5 separate regions of the Homo sapiens genome follow, and regions 1, 2, 3 and 4 are each reported to be linked to region 5. Evidence: microRNA targets listed by miRTarBase, many of them from high-throughput screens and not tested one by one. Region 5 holds a microRNA gene; each other region holds the end of a gene's coding sequence.
The links. Region 5 holds the annotated microRNA hsa-miR-374b-5p (AUAUAAUACAACCUGCUAAGUG, at 1,778-1,799, shown strand). A microRNA usually pairs through its seed, bases 2 to 8, with sites in the 3' UTR of a target mRNA and lowers its output. Matches are read on the target gene's strand: a 7mer-m8 pairs with bases 2 to 8, a 7mer-A1 pairs with bases 2 to 7 and ends in A, and an 8mer does both.

Region 1 (4,121 bases), not on the chromosome of region 5:
CAATACAGACGGGACCCCAGGAGCCTTTGCTGAGCTGTGGTTGAAGGGCATCAAACAGTCTCCTTTTCTAATGACACTCCCTTTTATAGATTGGCCCGGATCCTCGTTCGCCTGCCGGCACTCAGGCTGATGAGCTCCAACATAACAGAAGAACTTTTTTTTACTGGTCTCATTGGCAATGTTTCGATAGACAGCATAATCCCCTACATCCTCAAGATGGAGACAGCAGAGTATAATGGCCAGATCACCGGAGCCAGTCTATAGCGCAAACCACACACCTGCCAAGGAGCAACAGAATCCTTCCAGGACCGTTCACATACAAAGAAAAGTAGTGGTATTTTGGTATGTGCAAATATTTCCATATGTTAGCCATTTCCTGTCTGGTTTCTCCTTATCTGTTAATCCCAGACAATAGCAATTAAAAGACTAGTAGGATCCTTTCCTGACATAAGAAATGTTTTAATGCCTTTTGATGAAGCAGCAGATTTTGGAACAATCTTTTAACTCAATTTGTATTTAGAAATTCTCAAAGGGCAAAAAACAAAAAAAAAGGTTTTATAATGTCAGAGACTAGTATTAAAGAAAACTGAAAGAACCTGAGAGAATAGTATGTGTGTATATATATATATAAAAAAGTCCTTGGAATTATAGATACTAATTACCAGGGTAATAATATTAGCACTTTCTAAGCACTTATCAATGTGTAACGTTAGCAACATCTTGCCTGTGGGCAGGGCAAATGGAAAACTGTGTATGTCTTTTGCCGAAATGCTAATGATTTCTGTGAAAACTCACTAGGGTACAGGAGACAATCATTTATGTTTAAGAAAAGAAGGCATCATTCCTAATTGTGTGCACATGTTGTGGAGTTGAGCTGAATTCTGTGAATGGAAACGTGGCTCATTTGCATCATGCAGTAAGTGGGAGTGTGGTAGCACAGTCGGTGGTGACCCAGTTCAGAAGCTTCTAGCCATAGAGCAGACACTTGTCAGGTTCCCTGACTACTTGGTCCTGGTCTCTGATGGGCATCTGCAGACTCCTCTAGAACCTGGGGTTCTCCTTTGATGACTGGTTATCTGAATTGGATTGCAACTAGTCAGACATTAACTGCCAAATGAGATGTACAGTTCCTCCAGCAAGTGAAAACATCCCCAAGTCACATCCGCCGCTCGTGGCAGATGGAGCCTTGTGACCAAAAAGTGCAAGGTGGGCATTTTGAGCTCTTGACAGTACTTCCAATACAATTGGGGGTGCTTGTGTGTTTGTCCAGATGGAGGAGTGTGGCCTTGGAGTGTGAGCGTTACCTTCCCAGGGCTTTCCACTCCAAATGCCCCCTTGAAAAGGGCTCGTGTTTCTGCAGCTCCATCATAACTGTGAGGCTGGATTGGGGCTGGGCAGGAGCCTGCTGCCGCCTGGCGAGAGTGGTTAGGGCCTGGTAAAGCTGGATGGAAGGTTTCAGGACAATTTCTTCCTGTTGACCTTAAATACCAGAGATTTTAAAAATGTGTATAGACTCAGCATCTCTGTTGGCAAGTCTGTTAATGTTACCAGCACACTGTGCACTTTGGTTCCCCCAGGTGTGTGCCAGCCGACCACCCCGGAGCATTTTAAATGCAGGCTGCTTGCTCCTTAAAAACAACCCTCAATTTCCAGGGTGATAGTCTTTCTCCTCATAAATTGTAGCAACCAGAGTTTACAGCAAGAACAGTATGCGCTTAAAAGGAAGTTATGTCTAACTTCAAACACCCGTAAATTCCCACGGATGTGAATATATAGCAAGCTTTTCCTGTTTGAGAACAGTGGCATGTGGAAGACCCGGTCAATTGCTTTGTCTTTTGCTTTTTAAATAGTCCAGATTAAGAAAATACACCCTGTTGGGTTAAATTTGCCTCTCTTGATTTGTTAATCAGATGATATCCAAAAAGATCCCTGGACACTCCCCTGACTCACAGGTGCTCTGATCTGGCTCAGGCTGGCGCCACATGTGCTCCACAGGGGTGCAGTCTGGCCAGCTACAGACGCCCCTGTGGTGCCACATTGGACAGAATGGAAGCTGCTGCAGGCTCAAGGCAGAACAGGATGCTTGATCCTGAAGGGTTAGCAGCACTTTACGCAAGTCAGTGTTAGTAGGGTAAGTGGGAACAGTGTTTCCAACTTCTAAATTCTTGTTTGGATTTAATTATATCATTTTATAATTCTTGCCTTGGCAGCAAATTTTGGAGAGTAGTGGGAGTGGCCATTATAAAATGATGGAAAGGATTTAATTTTGCCAGCTTAAAGTAATTTTTACTTTTCTAACCCTGATGTGTTTTCAGTTTCAAAATTAAGACAAAAAACCAGCTGAGACAATGGAATTAGGGCAGGTTTGTTTCATTTCTGCTTGTGAAGGCTTTTAGTAGCAGGCATCCTGCAGCTCAGTGGTGCCTCTAACACAGATTGTTGCCTGCCTTCCGTCGTTTTGATCCTTGAGAGTGACCATGAGGGCCATGTTGCAGTTCCCTGGGAATACAAGCATAACAGCTTTCAGATCCCAGTTCTTGGTGTTGGTGAAAAGGTCTCCACCAGCCCCTCCTCTCATTCCCAGGTCATTCAGTGGCAGCCAGTAGGCTGCTTAGACTCAGGCTGGATAAGGAAGTGTTGGGCTGTGGTGAAACAACCTTGCAGAAAACGTGATTTTGCTTGGAAAGGTGCTGATTCTAACCTGGTCCTGCTCTTTAAGTCCCCTTGCTGGTGATGGCTGATTCCAGGGACTGTTTTGGGCTTTGAACACCTCTTGGTTGGTTTCTGAGATCCTCTTGGCCTTACTTTGAAGTGGCCTTTTCTTTAAGGATCATGTCCACGTAACCTGTATTCTTGCTGCTTTAACTCATTTCAAGCCTCTGACTGCAGGTCCATTTCATCTCCTGTCAGGTTGGTTAAGTAAAGTCAGCCCAAAGTCAAGAATTACTTAAAGAGATGCAAACCAAATATTTGGGCTCCAACTTTCACAGGGCTTATAGCCCTTATTAGCAGTTTGTGAAACTTTGGGTTTCATGAAGTGAGACCTGTCCTCTGGCTACTGAACTCCATGGAGCCACGTTCATGCTCCCTCTTCTACTGGCCTGGCTGCTCCTCCCTCAATGAGGAGAGGCAGCTGGCTCAGAGAGGTGGGACAGACACATGCTGTCATCAGTTAAGTGAGCTCTTTTCCAGAAGTATCTCAGATAATGTTGGGTTAAGACAGATAGATGTTGAAAATGGTGGAGATCATTACACATTAGCATAAAACAGGACAGGAAGAGATTTTTTGAAAGACCAAATTAGTTGAGCAAGTAATACTTTTCAAGTTACTCCTGGAAGGTGTTTTTAAGGAAGTGTGTTACCTACCATACTCTCCTAATTTGACATTTCTGTGTCCTGAGGAGTTACATTTATTGTCTAACCCTTGCCATAAGGCTGTGGTTTGAGGTTCTTTTGCTGTTCTGGGCTTTATATTTAATTTCAGGTGTAGTCACTTCTAAGATGTGTAATTGCCCTCAAGAGGGACTGATTTTTAGCTTGTCATTGTCAGTATTGAATGTGGACTCTTCTGAGGCAGTTAGGACACCAGCCATGGTGTTAACAGTGGATGCGTTAGGCTCCTTAATCTCAAGGCAATATCCACGCTACACACATACTTATTAGCTGTCTTACTTGTTTGGGGGATAGTTACGGCAAGGAGCAAAAAATTCTAAGGACTCTAGCTGTTTCTAGTGCTTTTACTTTCATAGTCCTTTGAGGACATTTCCTGCAGAGCACTCTTGCTCACAGCCCGCCCTCTGCAGGGCTTCCAGCCCCTGGCCGCAATCAGCAGTTCATGCCACATGTGTACATCCATGTTCTGGGACCTGATCTCATTGGAGTCCAGAAGCTTGTTGCCCACTTTCCAGTGTAAATGACTTTATGTGCAATGGGGTCATAGGTAACATTTTAACTCTTTTCTTAGTCCAGGTCATAGGAAGTCTCATCATCTGACAGCCACTTTTCTCCCAGGGAAGGCGGTGCCCACTGGGCCCTGGGAATGCCTGAGCCAGCAGAGCAGATGCCCCACGTGCTTCCTTTATCCAGCTTCCATTCTCTCAGTTATGAGGCTCTTTGAAAAT
Region 2 (4,121 bases), not on the chromosome of region 5:
GTTCACTGGAGAGGTAAGAGCTTTGTCTTGCCATGTCTGCCATGCCTGCCATGTCTCACTCTTCAGTGGAGGATGGCCTGCTACATATGAGATAACTGGAAAACAGTCTTCCTGGTCTGACATGGATTACTGGGAGAGATTAAAAAGATTTGGTGAGGGACTTGTTTCAACAACTATTGAGCACTCACAACATACCAGTCACCTTTCCAGGTAAAGGGAGACTATCAATGAAGCTGAAAAACATGCAACAAAATTTCAAATAGCGTTAACAAGTATGAATAAAATAGGACTCAGTAAGAAGTGACAAGAGATGGAATACAGACCAGCTGGAGAACTGAATGCAAAGAAAGGATCCAGCCAAGCAAAACATTAGGTAAGAGTGAACCAAGTAGCAGAAATATCAAGTGAAAAGGACTTGAGACAGAAATGAGGCCACTGTGGCTAGAGCAGGGCAAGCAAGGGAAATATGAAAAAGTCACAAAAGGTATCAAGAGCCAACTAATCATAAGAATTTCATATAATGGGAAGCCATTACAGATCTTAACAAGGAAATCACCTCATCTCTTCAAATCCTAAAGCAATTACCTTTCCTACTGTATGGAGTATGGATGGGATAAGAGCCAGACGAATGAGTAGGGGCAAGAGGGAGCAGTTATGAAGGAACTGAGAAATAAAGGTAGCCTGCCTAGGGTGGTAACAATGGAGAGGAGGCAAAGCACAGCTTCGAAGAGCCCACAGGACTTGCATATAGACATGGGCATGAGAGAGAACACAGTCAAGGATTTACATGTCTTTTAGTTTGAACAAGTAAGTATAAGTTAGTACCAGTTAGTGGAATGGGGAAAGGTTGAGGGAAACAGGTTTGATTTAAAAAATCAAGACTTACGATAGGTAAGTCTGAGTCTTATGAAAGGTTAAGATGGAGCACTCAACTATGCTGTCAAACTCTGGTGCTCAAAGAGGCAGACCAGGTAGACAACATATAAACAACGATGTAGAACCTATCAGAAGATCTTGAGTAACAGCAGATATTTTTCTTTAGACAACAGAGCTAGAAAGTGCAGCCCAGATCTGAAGTCAAGAAAAAAAAGGAGGAACTGGCAAATACAAGAGTCAGTAAGGTATAAAAAGACCCTGCCGGGCACGGTGGCTCACATCTGTAATCCCAGCACTTCGGGAAGCCGAGGCGGGTGGATCACGAGGTCAGGAGATCAAGACCATCCTGGCCAACATGGCAAAACCCCGTCTCTACTAAAAATACAAAAATTAGCTGGGCGTGGTGGTGTATGCCTGTAGTCCCAGCTACTCAGGAGGCTGAGGCAGGAGAATCGCTTGAACCTGGGAGGCAGAGGTTGCAGTAAGCTGAGATCGCACCATTGCACTCCAGCCTGGGTGACAGAGCGAGACTCCATCTCAAAAAAAAAAAAAAAAAGACCCAGGAGTGTAGTTTCATAGAAGCTAAAAAAAAAAATCAAAAACCAGGAAGTGGATGATTATTGAATGCTGCTGAAGGTTTAGTTAAGATGAGAACAGAAAAGTGACCACTACTCTTGAAAGTTTTGTTAAATTCTACTGTAGGATTCTACCATTACCAAGTGTGGTAAGCAGACTAATAACTAATGGCCCCCACAAAGATGTCTACTTCCCAATCCCCAGAACCTGTGAATATGTCATCCTATATGGCAAAAGGGACTTTTGCAGATGTGATTAAATTGAAGATCTTGAATTGGAAAGATTATCCTGGATTATTCAGGTGAGCCCGATATAATTACAAACCTCCTTATAAATAAAAGAAGGCAGCAGGAGATAGAGTCACATTCAGAATAAGAGATTAAAAAACGGACACTGCTGGACGTAAAGAAAGAGGAAGGAACCATGAGCCAGGGAATGCAGCTGGCTTCTAGAAGCTAGAAAAGGCAAGGGAACAGATTGTCCTGTAGAGCCTCTAGAAGGCTTGCAGCTCTGCTGACACCTTAATTTAAGCCCAGCAAGACCTACTGTGGACTTCTGACCTCCCTAACCGTAAGATAATAAATTTGTGTTGTCTTAAGGTACACATTTGTGGTCACTTGTTACAGCAGCAGCAGGAAACCAATACACAAAGGACTGTACCTGTACAGGGTCATTAGACTTTTATGAAACCTAAGGAGAAATTCCCTTGGTTCATAAATAACAAGCAACTTCATGATTCCAATCTGATGCGTACAGAACTTTATTGAGGGTAAATCAGACTCTGATTAGAGTCTGAGCAACTGCTGGTACAATGACAACACTGCTGCAATCCAGAGGTTCAGGCATGTAACAAGCTGACACAAAAATACTACCACTCTATGAAAGCCAATATGGATCACCAGTTGGCTCCCCTGTATTTCTCTCGGCCCTCACAGGTTGTCACAGCCTACAGTGCTTTCTTCTGGTTATCACAAATCCTCAAAAATTAATCTTATTCTTTGGTTGACTCATATTGCTTTTAAGAAAAGTTATCAAGGGTCACTCACAGGACTGATCAGGAGAAAAAGGAAGTTGCAGAGATGTTATTTATTCATCTGAAGTATTTCCAAATTACTCATTTAATATGCCCTCTTTGTTTTAAAAAATAAATTACAAGTCTAAACTCAGCTGATCCAATTTATTAGAAGGTTTTAGAAGGGCTTTCTGAATGCCACCCAAATTTAAAGAATGAGGTAAAATTCCATACTTCTTAAACCACTGCAGGACTATAGTAATCCCATTTTTATAAAATCCATTCTATCTATCTGTATATACATACAGAGATGCCCTAACATGCATTCATGGTCATTTGATTTTAATAGTTTTTTGAGGAGTGGTAGGATTTTAAGTGATCTTTCAGCTTACTGCTAAATTTCAGTTGATTTTTTTTTTCTTATAACTAGCATGTATTATTTAAATAATTGTTTAAAAAGGCATGTCAAGCACTTCTATCCAATCTGGGAATAGAGAAGGTAAATGAAACACTAGTAAAGGACATAAGAATTTCAAAAATTCAGGACAAGTAACTGAATCTCAATATTATAAAATAATGTTTACTACAGATTAATTGGCTTACCTTTTGCTATGGTTATGATACAGAAAAACCTTCTGGCTATTTCCACTTATAAAACTCACATTAGTAGTTTTTCCCCAAAAAAACCAAACATTGTTTTGTTTTAGAGGCATTTTATTTAGACAACTAAAAACAATTAGATGTTCAGAGGCAGTGTACAATGAACGAGAAATCAAACCAGTTACTTTATCATGTATTCCCTCTTCTTTACAACTGAAGCAAAAAAAGAAAAGGCATTCTGCTTTAAGATCAGAAAAAATCAGCCAATATAGTTTTCTTCTCCATATTAACATAAACAGCTACAAGAACCCTAATTGTAATAATAGAAATTGGATGTTGGCTTGTATATATTCATTAAAAAGATAACAGGCCACTGTACTATAAGAGGATAACTCCACCTCCCTTCATCTGACACTTGAGTTTTCACTTACAGGTAACACCAAGTTAGTTAGTTGTTCCAGCACTGGAGCTAATTCATTTTCCTCATTATTTACTGCTGTTTCTGCCTTAAGCAGACAGTAACTCTGGAAGGCTGATGCTTTTCTCTGCTTGCTTGTTTTAGTCAGTTGTATACTAACTGCACATATGATTGACGCTCAGGCCTTAACATCAGGAGCTGAAGGAAAGATGCAATCTGAATTCTCTGAAGCAATTTCTTCTATAAGTAAAAAAAAAAAAAAAAAAAAAAAGTCACATTAGTCAACTTAATGAAAGAAAGAAGCAAATCTACATTTCTGTGTAATGAAGGAATGAAAAAGTGTTTGTAAAGCATACTGTGGTAAGGGAAAGAAGAGAGCAACTGCACATGCCACTAACAACTAGACTCATGTCATTGAAAAGGCAAAGAAGAAAGAGTTCATGTGTTTTATCCACTAGATTCTCTTACACCATAACTCAACCTCCAAGGGTCCCTTTCTGGCCTAAATTTTCAAAGACTCCAGCTATATAACAAACCCGGAATTAAAGTCATGTCTTCGAAGGATCTGGCCCTCTCTTTTAGTGATTCAAATCCTAATATTTAGTGCTATTTAAAGCAAAACATTAACCATCAACATTG
Region 3 (4,121 bases), not on the chromosome of region 5:
TTATATGTCTTGGGTATCACTCAGTTTTAGTACCTTTAACCTGGACACGTTACCCAGATACAATTTCAAGGTAAACATGCCTGCCTGTCTTCCTAGTTTTTTTTTTTTTTTTTTGCCCAGCAGGAGTGCAGTGGCACAATCGCAGCTTCGAAATGCTAGACTTAAGCAATCCTCCTGAGTAGCTGGGACTACAGGCATGCGCCACTGCACCCTGCTGATTTTTAAATTTTTGGTAGAGATGGGTTTTTTTGTTGTGCAGAGTGGTCTTGAACTCCTGGGCTCAAGCAATCCTCCTGCCTCAGCCTCCCGAAGTGTTGGGATTACAGGCATGAGCCACCACGCCTGCAGGTTTTAACATGTTAAGCAAAGCACACACCCGCAGCAAGTGGGAAATCCAGCTTCAAGAGAATTTCCATTTCTTACCATCTTTTTCCACTTTGTCCATCTCTCCCTGCAGCCCTCCCCCATCAAGCATCCATTGTATGAAATGCCCATACTACCTTTTTCTGTGTGCTTTACCTACTATGCTTACTCTTGAAAATTTCCTCCTGGGCCATCTTAGAAACTTATTATTCAGTCTGCATTTCCATTTTGCTTACCTTTCTGTGACACTCATCCAATGGCCTATGGCCGTGTTTACACGGATTTGATATGCTTTAGAAGGCAATTACTTTTATTCATCATTGTCTCCCCTGGGCCCAGCTAGCATGGCACCTGTTACATAAAAAATTCATGTTTTCTGACTGTTCAGTAGATGCCATTTTAAGCAACAACTCAAAGGGCCTTTTTTCTCGGGATTATTTTAAAACATGTTTCATTTATCCTCTAGTATTTCAGACGATGTCAGAAAATGAAAAATGGACATTTACTTTTTTACCTAAAGCCTATCACTTTGCAGGTCATTACTCTTCGCTGTGAATGAGGAAAAAAAAAAACAAAAACTCTGTGGTATGTTAAGAGCCAAGAAACTAGTGATTTTTTTCTATTACCATTTACAACTGGTATGTTTTACAAACGATCACATTTTATATATCAGCTTACCTTTTATATGTTATTTATTTATTTATCTTTTTGAGACGGAGTCTTGCTCTGTTGCCAGGCTGGAGTGCAGTGGCGCGATCTTGGCTCACAGCAACCTCCGCCTCCTTGTCTCAAGCGATTCTCCCGCCTCAGCCTCTCAAGTACCTGGGACTACAGATGCACACCACCATGCCCAGCTAATTTTTGTATTTTTAGTAGAGACAGGGTTTCACCATGTTGGCCAGGATGGTCTCCATCTCTTGACCTCATGATCTGCCTGCCTCGGCCTCCCAAAGTGCTGGGATTACAGGCGTGAGCCACCGCACCCGGCCACATTTTATATATTATTTTGCATAGCCTTCATTGTCTTAGCAAAGTCAGAAGAAGTCCAATAACATAATGTCATTAAATTAACAACAACGACAACAACAACAACAAAACAACCCAGGATGGGGGCAGTGGCTCAAGCTAGTAATGCCGACACTTAGGAAGGCCAAGGTGAGTGGATTGTTTGAATCCAATTTAAGACCAAACTGAACCCCTCTATTTAAAAAAAAAGTAAAACAGTAAAAAAATCCTTGGTTTTCTAGATAAACTGCCTGATACCATCACTGAAATGATATCATTTTGTGTGTGATATTAATTTAAAAAAGACATAAACTTTGGGTTCTAAAAGGTGACTAAGGAAAACAGGCACTTTAAGATCACACTGATATGGGTATCAGGATGGGGAGAAGAAAAATAGAAAATTGGCATTTACATTTTTACTAATAAAAAAAAGCATCAATAGCTAAGACTTATGTAATGCTTACTAAGTGCCTGCACGTTTAACCATAAACCTATAAGACAGGTTCCAATATATTCATTTTACAGGAGAGGAAACTGGGCACACAGAGGTTAAGTAATTTGCCCAAGGTCACATAAGAAATAAGAGTTGAGATTCAAATAGAGGTAGTCTAGCTACAAGTATCATGTACTTATCACACTGCACTATACTATACTGGCAAGAAACTAAGTTGCTTTCTTGAAGAAATCCCTATTCAAATGGCATGCATATGATTCACTTGGAAAAATTAGACTAATCAACATCTGGCTGAAACCTTTGTTTCAGAAATAAGCCTCCTATGTACTTTGAGATGATTAACAGTATTTCTGCATTACTGTAATAAACATTTGTCAAAAAGAGCAATCACCTCAGTCATCATACAGACTTCTTTCCCTTCATTAAAGACTTCTAAATATAACTCTTCTGTATCAAAGAACTTACAAATGTCTCAAGAAAGTAATGGTGTAGCAGTGTAAGAGAAGTAAAAGTCTGCTAGGGGAAACTAATGAAGCATTTTCCTCATTACACTTTTGGGTTGATATATTTCATTAAGACAGAACTAGTTCTGTTTTGCTTTGCTTTTTAGTGCTTAGTCTGAGAGGCAATGCGAGAAACCAAAAGTCTTAGGAGAAAAACTGCTTTCATAATTTCCAGTGTAAGCCACAAAGAAGCTTTTCTATAAAGGCTTGAAAGCTTGAAGAGGTGACAAGAGCAAGCTGTATTCAATTAGACAGTTCAATAAATATGCAAAAATAAAAAAACACTTAGCAATCATGAGTATACTGTTTGTATTCTGGAAAAAGCAACATATTTCATGCTTTGAATATTTTCTCTTGAGAATAGTTTTAAAGTTATTTCCTTTTGTAACATTCAAAAGTAAAACACACATATATAATTCCATCAAGGATTCTCTGTATGATTAACATTCTGTACAAGTCAAACATGACCACATCTATATTGGAAAGAGAGCACTGAGAAGCAACAGCAGGAGAATGCATCACCTGTGCCTGTTTCAGGATGAACAGTTTTGTTAAGTTCAGCAGATGAATGTAACAATGACCACTTGTTTCCAAATACCCAGATGTTTCTTACTGGCTCCTCACTAATCAATAACACAAGTGCTAAGTTCTAAGTATTTAAAAAAACAAAAGACTGCAGGTGACTCCTTCTCTCTGGTCCCTTTACCAAAGCTCCAAATCACTTATGACATTAATTACAATATTCTGCACTCCAAAAAAATATGCAAACACAGGTTTGCTAAATTTTAGTTACTCAGTGAACCTACTAAATTTTAAAGTAGAAAAAAGACTTACATTCTCATGACACAAACTTTAGTTTTCACATTCACCAAAACATTTTAAAATCACTCAAACATGAGAATTGAAAATGTGTGTGCTTATTTGGGAGAGGATTACTGCATTTATTCTCCAGAAAAAAAGGCAGACCTGAGGCATCACATTACCGGAACATTTAAATATGATGACATGTTTCTTATCTTCTAAACTTCAACGAAAGCTGCTTGTACAAACTATTTAATGCATATCTGCCCCATTAAACAAGATATTTGATGTAGCAGAGAAGCCAGAAGCTGAGTCACTTCATTTCTTTCTGTTGCCTCCAGTTGCCAGCATAGTTGCAACTCGCATAAATATATTTAATGTATCCATGTAGATACTCAGCATCCTAGAAAAGAAAATTATGCCCATTATATATGATGCAATTCTAATAGTGATGTTGAATTCTTAATATAGAAAAGAAGAAAAATACTATTTGTCTTAGTGATATAAAATGGAAATTAAAAATAAGATGTTTAACTGCCAACTAATGAAGTACTAGACTAGAAAATAGTTAAGGTCTTCCTTTTGGCAGACTCATCTTTTAAATGTTAAAGAGCAGTTTAAAAAAATCATTATTTTATTCTCTGACACTCTGCATATATCAACTTGCAAAGAAAACTAGGTGGCAGACAATGAAATAATCAAAACAAGACCAAAGAAACACCTTTATAAAAACCTGTTAGACACAAGTCTAGCATTTTTTAATATAAAAGACCCACTTCACCCCTCTAAAGAAAACTTCTACAAATCTGTAAGCTTTACAGTACAGCAACTTTTTCTTCCCCCTAAACCATTACATTAAGTTTTATTTTTAGATAAAATCAAATTACTTTAAAAAAATGTGACAGACACAATGAAACTCAAGAAAATTGTTTAAATAAAATAACCCACTTTGGTCGACTCCAAGAAAAAAGAAAAAAACATAATAACAATTAATA
Region 4 (4,121 bases), not on the chromosome of region 5:
AATGCTCCCTTCTGACAGGGCAGAGTCCGAGCTGGGTGCCCAGGGACACAGTGTGAAGCAGAGTTCAGGCTTCTAGAGAATGCGAGTTTCTTAAGTCACTCAAAGCCCCACCCTTAGCCTGGGAGACCTCTCCAGCCTCCACTGCTCCAGCTCCCACCTACCTGAGGCTTCTTCCAACTAGACTCCAAACCACAGGCAAATAATCTATCAGCCTAAGAACACAATCAGGCTCCTATCTACACAACTTCCTGCTGTCCAACTAAGTAACCAAGTTGTAAGTAAGTGCCTCACAAAAGGAAGGACAAAAGGCAGGACAAAAGGTCTTAGCAACTTGAGTCTGGAGATTTTTTTTTTAATCCTTTTTAGTTCAACATAAAATGAGAAAGAAAAAAATATTTCTGACATTTTCAAAGAACAGAAATAGGAAAGTATGTTCATATACATTCAACGTATACTGCACATATTGGTTACTACAATACAAAGCAATGAGTTTTTTTTAAAGTGTAGTTTGCAAGATGGCACGGTTAGTAGGCTCACTGGCTTTCATCTGTTGTTGCTGGAGGGTGCAGTCTGCTCTCCCATACATACAGTACCATGTAAACACATCAGGCTGAGCGCGTGGTGGTGGTAGGGCAGGTTGGGGGCATAAGAGTTGGAACAAGCGCAGATAAGTCAACAGCTTTTTAGGGCTTTCTTGGTAAGCCCCCTTCTGGTGAGTAGTTGGTGACCCCACCAAGTGGAGGGGAGACTGGGGACCATGGAAACATGGGACAGCTCCCACGAAGGGCTCTTGCACTGCAGAATTCCACTCAAGGGATCTTGGGTCCAGGAGCCGAGCTGCCAGTATCAGTGGAGAAGGACAAGGTGCATGGGGATCCCGCCAGCAACATCAGGATGGCCATGCCGGGCACCCGCTTTCCTCTGTGCAAATTCAGGATGAAAGACTAGGAGGGGACTCGGGACCTCTTGCTCTCCTTTCCCAGAAAAAAAAAGGGTGGAAGAGTCAGTGTATTCAAGGTCTCTCTCTTGTTTTGAAGATCAGAAGGAGATAACCCAGACCCTCTCTCAGCCCCAGCCAGCAGAGAAGACTTTGGTTTCTAACAATGAAGAGAAATAAAGATAACACAAATAATAGCTACTGCGTATGCACTGCTTCAACTGGGGAAAGGAGACCACTGCATCTGTCACTGGCACAAGTAAGAGCTGTTCACAATTACAATGCCTAAAGGAAATACTTTGAACAAAAGGTGCAAGTCACAATTCAAATAGAACAGAATCTGGTTAAACATTTCTCATTTAAACAAAAATTCCTTTTCTCTTTATTTATTAATAATGATAATAACAATAATATCAACATTTACCAAAAACAATTTCTACATGATCAAGAATTAAAATATAGGGGCTGAGGGTACCCAGTGGGGAAGAGGAGGTTAGGAGAGAGGCAGGGCCCAAGGCAACCTCCTACACTTCTTCCCTGTGACAAAGAGGCTGAAAGAGGAGAGCATATATATATATATTTTATATATATATTATATATATAATATATATATAATATATTATATTATATATTATATATATAATATATATATACACATATATTATATTATATATATACACACATATATAATATATATATGGAGAAACAATCCTTTTTATAGCACAATATAAAATGAGAATGAAAGATGCCATAGAAAGCATAGTGCACTGCTGTTGGGTGTTCAGTCCATGGATAAAACCAGCAGGATGATAAAGGCAACCAACTTTCCAGGTTACAAGAGGGGAGCTGAGTTATCCACCAAAAGCAAAGGCTCAAATTGAGACATCCTAACTGGCAAACCATCTATGCCAGGTCATTCTCAGCCTCCGTGCCAAACTCTTCATATGATCTTGGCTAGGACAGACATGTTTTCCGTGGATCCCAGCAGTAAAGACCTCTCTGCGTTCCAGGCTTGGGGGTTTCTCTTTTTTTGTTCTTTTTGTTTTCTAAGTGCCAGAAGCCGTCACCCTTCCTCTCTCCCTTTGCCTGCCATTAGGATTCCAGAGGATGGCATCCTTTAGTATTTGCTTTCACAGAAGAGCAATGCAGGGGGATGGAGGGTGCTCTGCTGATGAAGGCTAGGGAGGGAGTGGCCCTGAGGCCGCTGGCCTCTGAACTCTAACTGCTTTGCTCTCCTGTTTCAAAAAAGGAACGAAAGAAAAAAAAGAAAGGAAGAAAAAAAAGAAAGTATATCACCTCTGGAAGAAAACATACCAAAAACAAAACAAAACACAAACCCCCAAACAAAACAAAAAACCACCAACTCAAATATACTTTCACAAAAGATGGAGAACATGGATTTCCTTCCTGTTTATTTCCTTGGTGACTTGGTCATACAAGCAAACATGGCAAAACCCTCTCAGAACCCAAAAGAACAGCACACGGATGAACCAAATGTGAGGAAAGCAGCTGTGATATTTTGGGTGGAGAGAAACACAAGGGCAATTTGGCACAACGCTGCTAGATACTGTGGGTTTACAATCAACCTTTTCATTCCCAAGCTGTACACAAAACCTGGAATAAAGCAGACACAGAGGAGAATTAGTTTGAAAAGAGAAAGGCTCAAATATTCCATTTAAAACCTTTTAAAAAATGCAACGGGTTTACTTTCCCTCAGGTGTTCAGGTAGCTTGCCATACTGAGGCTCTGATGTGGATTTGCCAAGTGGCTTCCCTTTCATCAGGCCTCTTCTGTCAAGGATTTTCCAGATACAACCAATGGTGCCTGCTGTGTACTCTTTGCATTACTCCAGCCAAACAAGCCAATTTCCCCATTCTTTCTACCATGGGCCTCTCATCACACATTTCCCTAATCTGGAATATCCTGCCACTTGCTTCTGTATGGCCTTAAAAAATATGGCTGGACATATTTTCCTGCCAGGTTTTGTCTTTTAGGACTGAGTTTAAGGACTTCCTCCTTTCCTCATTATGCTGACCGGAGGTCACCTGCATCCTCTGGAGCCGTAGCTCACTTCTGTCGCTATGAAGGCTAGAGCACCTGTAACACACGGCGAGTCTTGTGTCTTATTCCCATAACCGAACCAAGAGACTGTGTTTAGCATTTCTTCTGCACACCCCCACCCCTACCTCGCGCCCTAAAACTAGCAGCGTCGTTAATGAAAAGCAAGAAACTGTGAAGGCCACGAGGGGAGGCGTGGTACTGTCGACTGCACTGGCCACCACAACACATGGGCTGAAGCTCCTGATGGGATTGGGAGCAGGCACTGGGCCACAGGGCTGGTTTGGCTCTGGCCAGGGTGACACTCACTCTCTGTTTCTTGTTACACGCCTGCCTGCTCCATGCTGAAGGAGACTTCGGGGTGCTTGTAGCTGAGCAGAATGTCTGTAATACACGTAGATGGATAGCAAGAGGAGTTTAAATGCTGGCTGCCATCACTCAGGTCTGGGTGCTCATGACCTCCCAGGCTTGCCCCACATTCTGCAAGACCAAAAAGAACGTATGAGGTTGGCAGGGAACTGGGGGACTAGGAGAGCAAGGGGGAGAGAGAGGAGGAATTGAAGGCAACCTGTCGAGCATCCCACAGCCTGACTCCCAGCCCTGAATTCTAGCTCACAGCAGGCCCTCAAGGTGTTGAGTGACGATGGGCGGGGGCCAAGATTCTTCCTATATTCTCCTCTACCTGTTCTGCTTTTTTCCCTTTTCCTTTACCCTTTCCCATCCTTAGGTAAGATCAACTACTGTAGTGTGAGAGAAGATAGAGGACTCCTTCAGAAAGGATCACCTCTTAAAGAGTGAAAGGGAGAATAATTTTACTGCCTGCAGGCACCCATTCCTGGGCACTGTCTGTCTTCCAGACACTGTGCTAAGCACTTGATACTCACTAAGCCAGCCAGCCCTCAGGGCACAATGTAGGATAAAGGCTCTATCGTTTTTGCCACTTTACAGATGAGGATCTCGGGGTCCAGAAAGCCAAGTGCCTCACCTGCAGAGCCTGAAAAGGACAGCCTTGGGACTGGTGGCAGACCTGCCCCGCCCAAGGCCTACGCCTATTATTTGTTATGACACCCTCCCTTGACTGGCTCCAAGAAGAGGTAGAAATGTGCCATTAGGACCTGATGCCCTC
Region 5 (4,121 bases):
CTAGGCTACAAACCTGTACAGCATATGACTGTACTGAATACTGTAGGCAATTATAACAGAATGGTAAGTATTTGTGTACCTAAACATATATAAACATAGAAAAGCTACAGTAAAAATATGATATGATTTTGTGGTGGGACAACTGTGGGACAACTGTCATATATGAGGTTCATCATTGTCCTAAACATTGTTAGGCAGCACATGACTGTATAGACATAATAGAACTTATAGGAAAAGTTATAGAAAAACTTATAGAAAAAGACCTTGATGAAAAATACTGTCATATTCTTTGGATGAATGTTGCAATTAACTCCTTTTAGATCATAACTTGACTGTACAGATTGTGCAAGATTGTTTTCTGGGAACAGCTGTATATGAAATGTTGATTCTCAGGGAGACACCTAGACACCTGAATTGCAGCAGACATTTTATGGTGTTGCTAAGTTGCTGGTCCTTCTCATCAGTAGCAGGCCTACTCTCACTGTCACATATCTCCCACGGTTTTTTTTTTTTTTTTTTTTTTTTTTTTTGTAATTAACCAAAAGTGAAGGCTTTTATATCAAAGACTCAATTGAGGAAGCAGTGGCCTTAGTCATTATTGGCATAATTGCTTTAGTTTGCTTATGGATCTTAAAACGTTTATGACTATATCTGCAAGTAAAAAAAAAATTCAATAATTAAAAACCTAAACATATCGAGTGTTTATTTTCTCTTTTTGCAAAGGTATATTCTAAACTCAATGTTCTTCGGGAAATTTTCCAATTAAGGCTCTGAGTATTGATATTTGGGATTTAGAGAATGGCTTTCTATGACCAGAATGGTTAGTGATGAGATTTTATGTAAGTAGGACTGGGTTTTTCAGGGGGCCTTGTGTAACTTGCCATCAAGAGTTGGGAAAGGAGGCCCTGAGCAGTGCAGCAGAGCTATGTAAAGTGAGAGTTTGGGTCTTGGGACCAGGTAGCCTGGGCTCAAATCTGCTCTCACACTTAGCAATGTGGTCTTGAGCATGATTCTTCACTTCCCCAGGACTCTGTTTTCTCTTATGTAAAATAGGAATAATATTTATTTTCAATGATGGGGGTAAAAAGTACTTAAAGGGACTAATTATGTAAATTGCTTAGAACAGGCCTGGAATATACAGCTAAATGCTGTGTCAACTGTTGTTGCTGATAATGGTGTTGACTATGACAAGTATTAAAAGAAGAGATTTGACTAGAGGTACTTATATTTTGAATGATCAGTGACGATGTTAGGGTTGAGAAAGAAAAACAGTAACTGACTTGAAGGTTTTCAATGGTATGTAAGTGTGAGGTCATTTCACCTTTTATTTCTCTGCCAGGTAGAGTGGGAAACCAAATTAATCACTCCATGATCTAGTGACTAATCTATTGCCTTTGCTTTTAGTTCCAAATAGAAAGCTGTTGAAAAGTTGTTGTATTACACCTGCATAAAGGTTATCCTGAAAACAGAAAAATGCATTAGACTTTGTCAAAACTGGATTTGAAACCTAATTCAACTGCTTGCTGGCTGTGTGACTTAAACTTGTTGAACTTCAGTTTCTTCCTCTAATATAACTATTAATTTTCAGAGTTTCCATGAAGATATTTGTAAAGTGTTTGTCATAGGCACTCTATACATTAATTACAGCTATTATTGTTAGATCTTGGGACACCCAGCACGTGACAAAAACAACAGCAGACCCTGGTGCCTGGGAGGACTTCATGGATCCAGCAGCAACCTGGAGTGGTGCTCCTCTGAAGAAATCCTACTCGGATGGATATAATACAACCTGCTAAGTGTCCTAGCACTTAGCAGGTTGTATTATCATTGTCCGTGTCTATGGCTCTCGTCTACCAGACTTTAAATTCCTTAAGGGCAAGGACAGTGCCTTACTCATCTTTGTATTCACAGTGCCTAATCCGGTGCACATTGTAGGCCTCATTAAATGTTTGTTGAATGAAAAAATGAATCATCAACAGACATTAATTGGGCGCCTGCTCTGTGATCTCCATGGGCTCAGCTTGTCCCCGCCAGTTGCCAACAACGTCCAAGCTCTCTTCAGAATGCTTACTCCTGAAGCTTATTCCTGTCTTCTAATTCTTTTGTTGAGGACTTTTCTGTGTAGTGCAATGATAGCAAATACACTTCATCTCAAGTACCATCTCCAATTGATTGATAATGCCTGCCCTGATTATGTTTTATAACAAGATTCTGAAACCAGGTCTTATCTCAGTGTGAAAGACATTTATAACTATTTAGTGATGTCTGCTGAGGGTCGGAGAAGGGGGAGTAGCAGCACAAGTGCCTCATATGTCATATTTGCTACTCTGTTTTCTATGAAATACTTCATTTCTATGCCTGCATTTTGGTCTTAGCTACTTGCTGATGTTGCATGGCTGTTGCTGCTACTGTAATTGCTGCTAATTGCTCCCTGGGTTGGACCAGAGTGCTCATTGTCTGAACAGAAACCTCATCCTCACAGTCTGAGGTTTGCTCCTGTGGCTGATATTTAAAGTTTTCCCCTTTCAACTTTACTCCAGCTATCCCCTTACCTGCACTGACAGGTAATCCTCCACCGTCCTGTTCACCTCTCACCAGGTTCATATTTTCTTTATCTTATTTATTGTACTTAATCATTATTTTGTGAGAAGCTTTTCTGATTGTAGATGTGACAACCAGAATACAAGTTAAAACCACTTATCCAGCGCCTTACAGTGAATCATTTAACATGAGAAAAAAATTGAGTGTGTTTGCAGACCATGGGGCAGAAGGAATTGAGAAGGGAGTCATTGTAGATGTGAGAAAGAGAGAGATGATAATAGATGGAAGATGATCTTGAAAGATGATGCAGGTGAAGCTGGAAGGGTGAAATTTATGGCTCTAGAACACATGCAGGTGGAGGGTTAGCCTTAGGTAAGTGGAACTACCTCTTTGCTGGAGCACAGAGATAGGGATAGGAGTAAGGAAGAGGACTTGGCAAGGGTGGTGAAGATTTGTAATTGTAGAGGTGGATGATGGGGAGGAAGCTGACCAGGAACAGGAATATGAAGACAAAAGCTGCTGGAACAGAAATACTAGAGGGCTAAATATGAACCAGAGTCCCTAAGGAATATTCAGGCCAAAACGCTGGAGTGAGACCATTAACAGGAGAGCTTATGGTATATCAAAGTAAGAAATGAGTTTGAAACTGGGTTAGAAGCTCAGGAAAATATGAAGTGGTTTTGGGGCATTGTCACTAGCAGTATTTGGTTGCCTTGATTGATTGAGGGGTGGACAGCTAGCAAGAGACGAGTTACACAGAAATGGATTTAAGAATCCAAACTAAGGCCGGGCGCGGTGGCCCACACCTGTAATCACAGCACTTTGGAAGGCCAAGGTGGGCAGGTCACCTGAGGTCAGGAGTTCGAGACCAGCCTGACCAACATGGTGAAACCCTGTCTCTACTAAAAATGCAAAAATTAGCCAGGTGTGGTGGCACATGCCTGTAATCCCAGCTACTCAGGAGGCTGAGGCAGGAGAATCACTTGAACCCAGGAGGCGGAGGTTGCAGTGAGCCGAGATCCCACCCACTGTACTCCAGCCTGGGTAACAGAGTGAGACTTCATTTAAAAAAAAAAATCCAACCTGGACATGGAAGGAAGTAAGGTCAGGAGTGGCCTCAGTCTGGGCCAAAAAGAGGCTTTAATGTGAACAAGGTGAGTGCTGAGTAATTGGAAAACTGGAGTGATAGGACCTGTAATCAGAGTAGACTTTGGAGTGTTAGATTTCAAAACTGGAGTGGTTAAGATACCTGTGAAGCTAGGATGTCAGATGATCATTTACATGACTATTATAGTAACCCAGGATTATAGTAGAAGCTAGGCTTAGAATGAACACTGGGCCAGGTACAAAAGGCTTCAGTGACTGTGAGGAATGACTTGGAGGTTGGCACATGTTAACTGCAAATACTAGAGAAGAAAGGCTGTAGTGGGATAGTAGATGAGCCTTAGAAGAGTGGGGGGATCCAGGTGATTCCTTCTTTTATTGAGTATTTGCTCTATGCCTGACACCTTGCTATATGCCATCTGTTCCCTCTTTTGGGTCTGTCACACTTCAGGAGTGGGAGAATGCGCAAGAATTCC

Region 1: miRTarBase lists NR2C2 as a target of hsa-miR-374b-5p. Seed matches in the 3' UTR shown: 7mer-A1 at 2,239-2,245.
Region 2: the mRNA of STRAP is a reported target of hsa-miR-374b-5p. The part of its 3' UTR that is shown has no 7-base or 8-base seed match.
Region 3: miRTarBase lists GHITM as a target of hsa-miR-374b-5p. The part of its 3' UTR that is shown has no 7-base or 8-base seed match.
Region 4: miRTarBase lists SIK3 as a target of hsa-miR-374b-5p. Seed matches in the 3' UTR shown: 7mer-m8 at 1,623-1,629, 7mer-m8 at 1,576-1,582, 7mer-m8 at 1,548-1,554 and 7mer-m8 at 1,537-1,543.

What each region holds. Positions count from the first base shown.
Region 1 is chr3:15,042,745-15,046,865 of GRCh38, forward strand. It overlaps NR2C2 (nuclear receptor subfamily 2 group C member 2), which reads left to right. Exons shown (of 14, transcript NM_001291694.2): 14 at 90-4,121. The coding sequence ends at 264. It also overlaps a transcript of MRPS25 not described here. Among named protein-coding and RNA genes, the nearest start is that of MRPS25, 21 kb to the right of the region's middle.
Region 2 is chr12:15,902,518-15,906,638 of GRCh38, reverse strand. It overlaps STRAP (serine/threonine kinase receptor associated protein), which reads right to left. Exons shown (of 10, transcript NM_007178.4): 10 at 3,161-3,722. The coding sequence ends at 3,661. Among named protein-coding and RNA genes, the nearest start is that of DERA, 6.8 kb to the left of the region's middle.
Region 3 is chr10:84,151,672-84,155,792 of GRCh38, reverse strand. It overlaps GHITM (growth hormone inducible transmembrane protein), which reads right to left. Exons shown (of 9, transcript NM_014394.3): 9 at 2,225-3,529. The coding sequence ends at 3,445. Among named protein-coding and RNA genes, the nearest start is that of GHITM, 14 kb to the right of the region's middle. RefSeq lists an enhancer at 1-481.
Region 4 is chr11:116,843,079-116,847,199 of GRCh38, forward strand. It overlaps SIK3 (SIK family kinase 3), which reads right to left. Exons shown (of 25, transcript NM_001366686.3): 24 at 3,305-3,475; 25 at 324-2,551. The coding sequence ends at 3,318. It also overlaps APOA1-AS. Among named protein-coding and RNA genes, the nearest start is that of APOA1, 7.5 kb to the left of the region's middle.
Region 5 is chrX:74,216,265-74,220,385 of GRCh38, reverse strand. It overlaps MIR374B (microRNA 374b), which reads left to right and starts at 1,768; the gene lies at 1,768-1,839. All of the region lies in intron 5 of FTX (FTX transcript, XIST regulator), which reads left to right. MIR421 (microRNA 421) reads left to right here and starts at 1,925; the gene lies at 1,925-2,009. It overlaps MIR374C (microRNA 374c), which reads right to left and starts at 1,837; the gene lies at 1,768-1,837.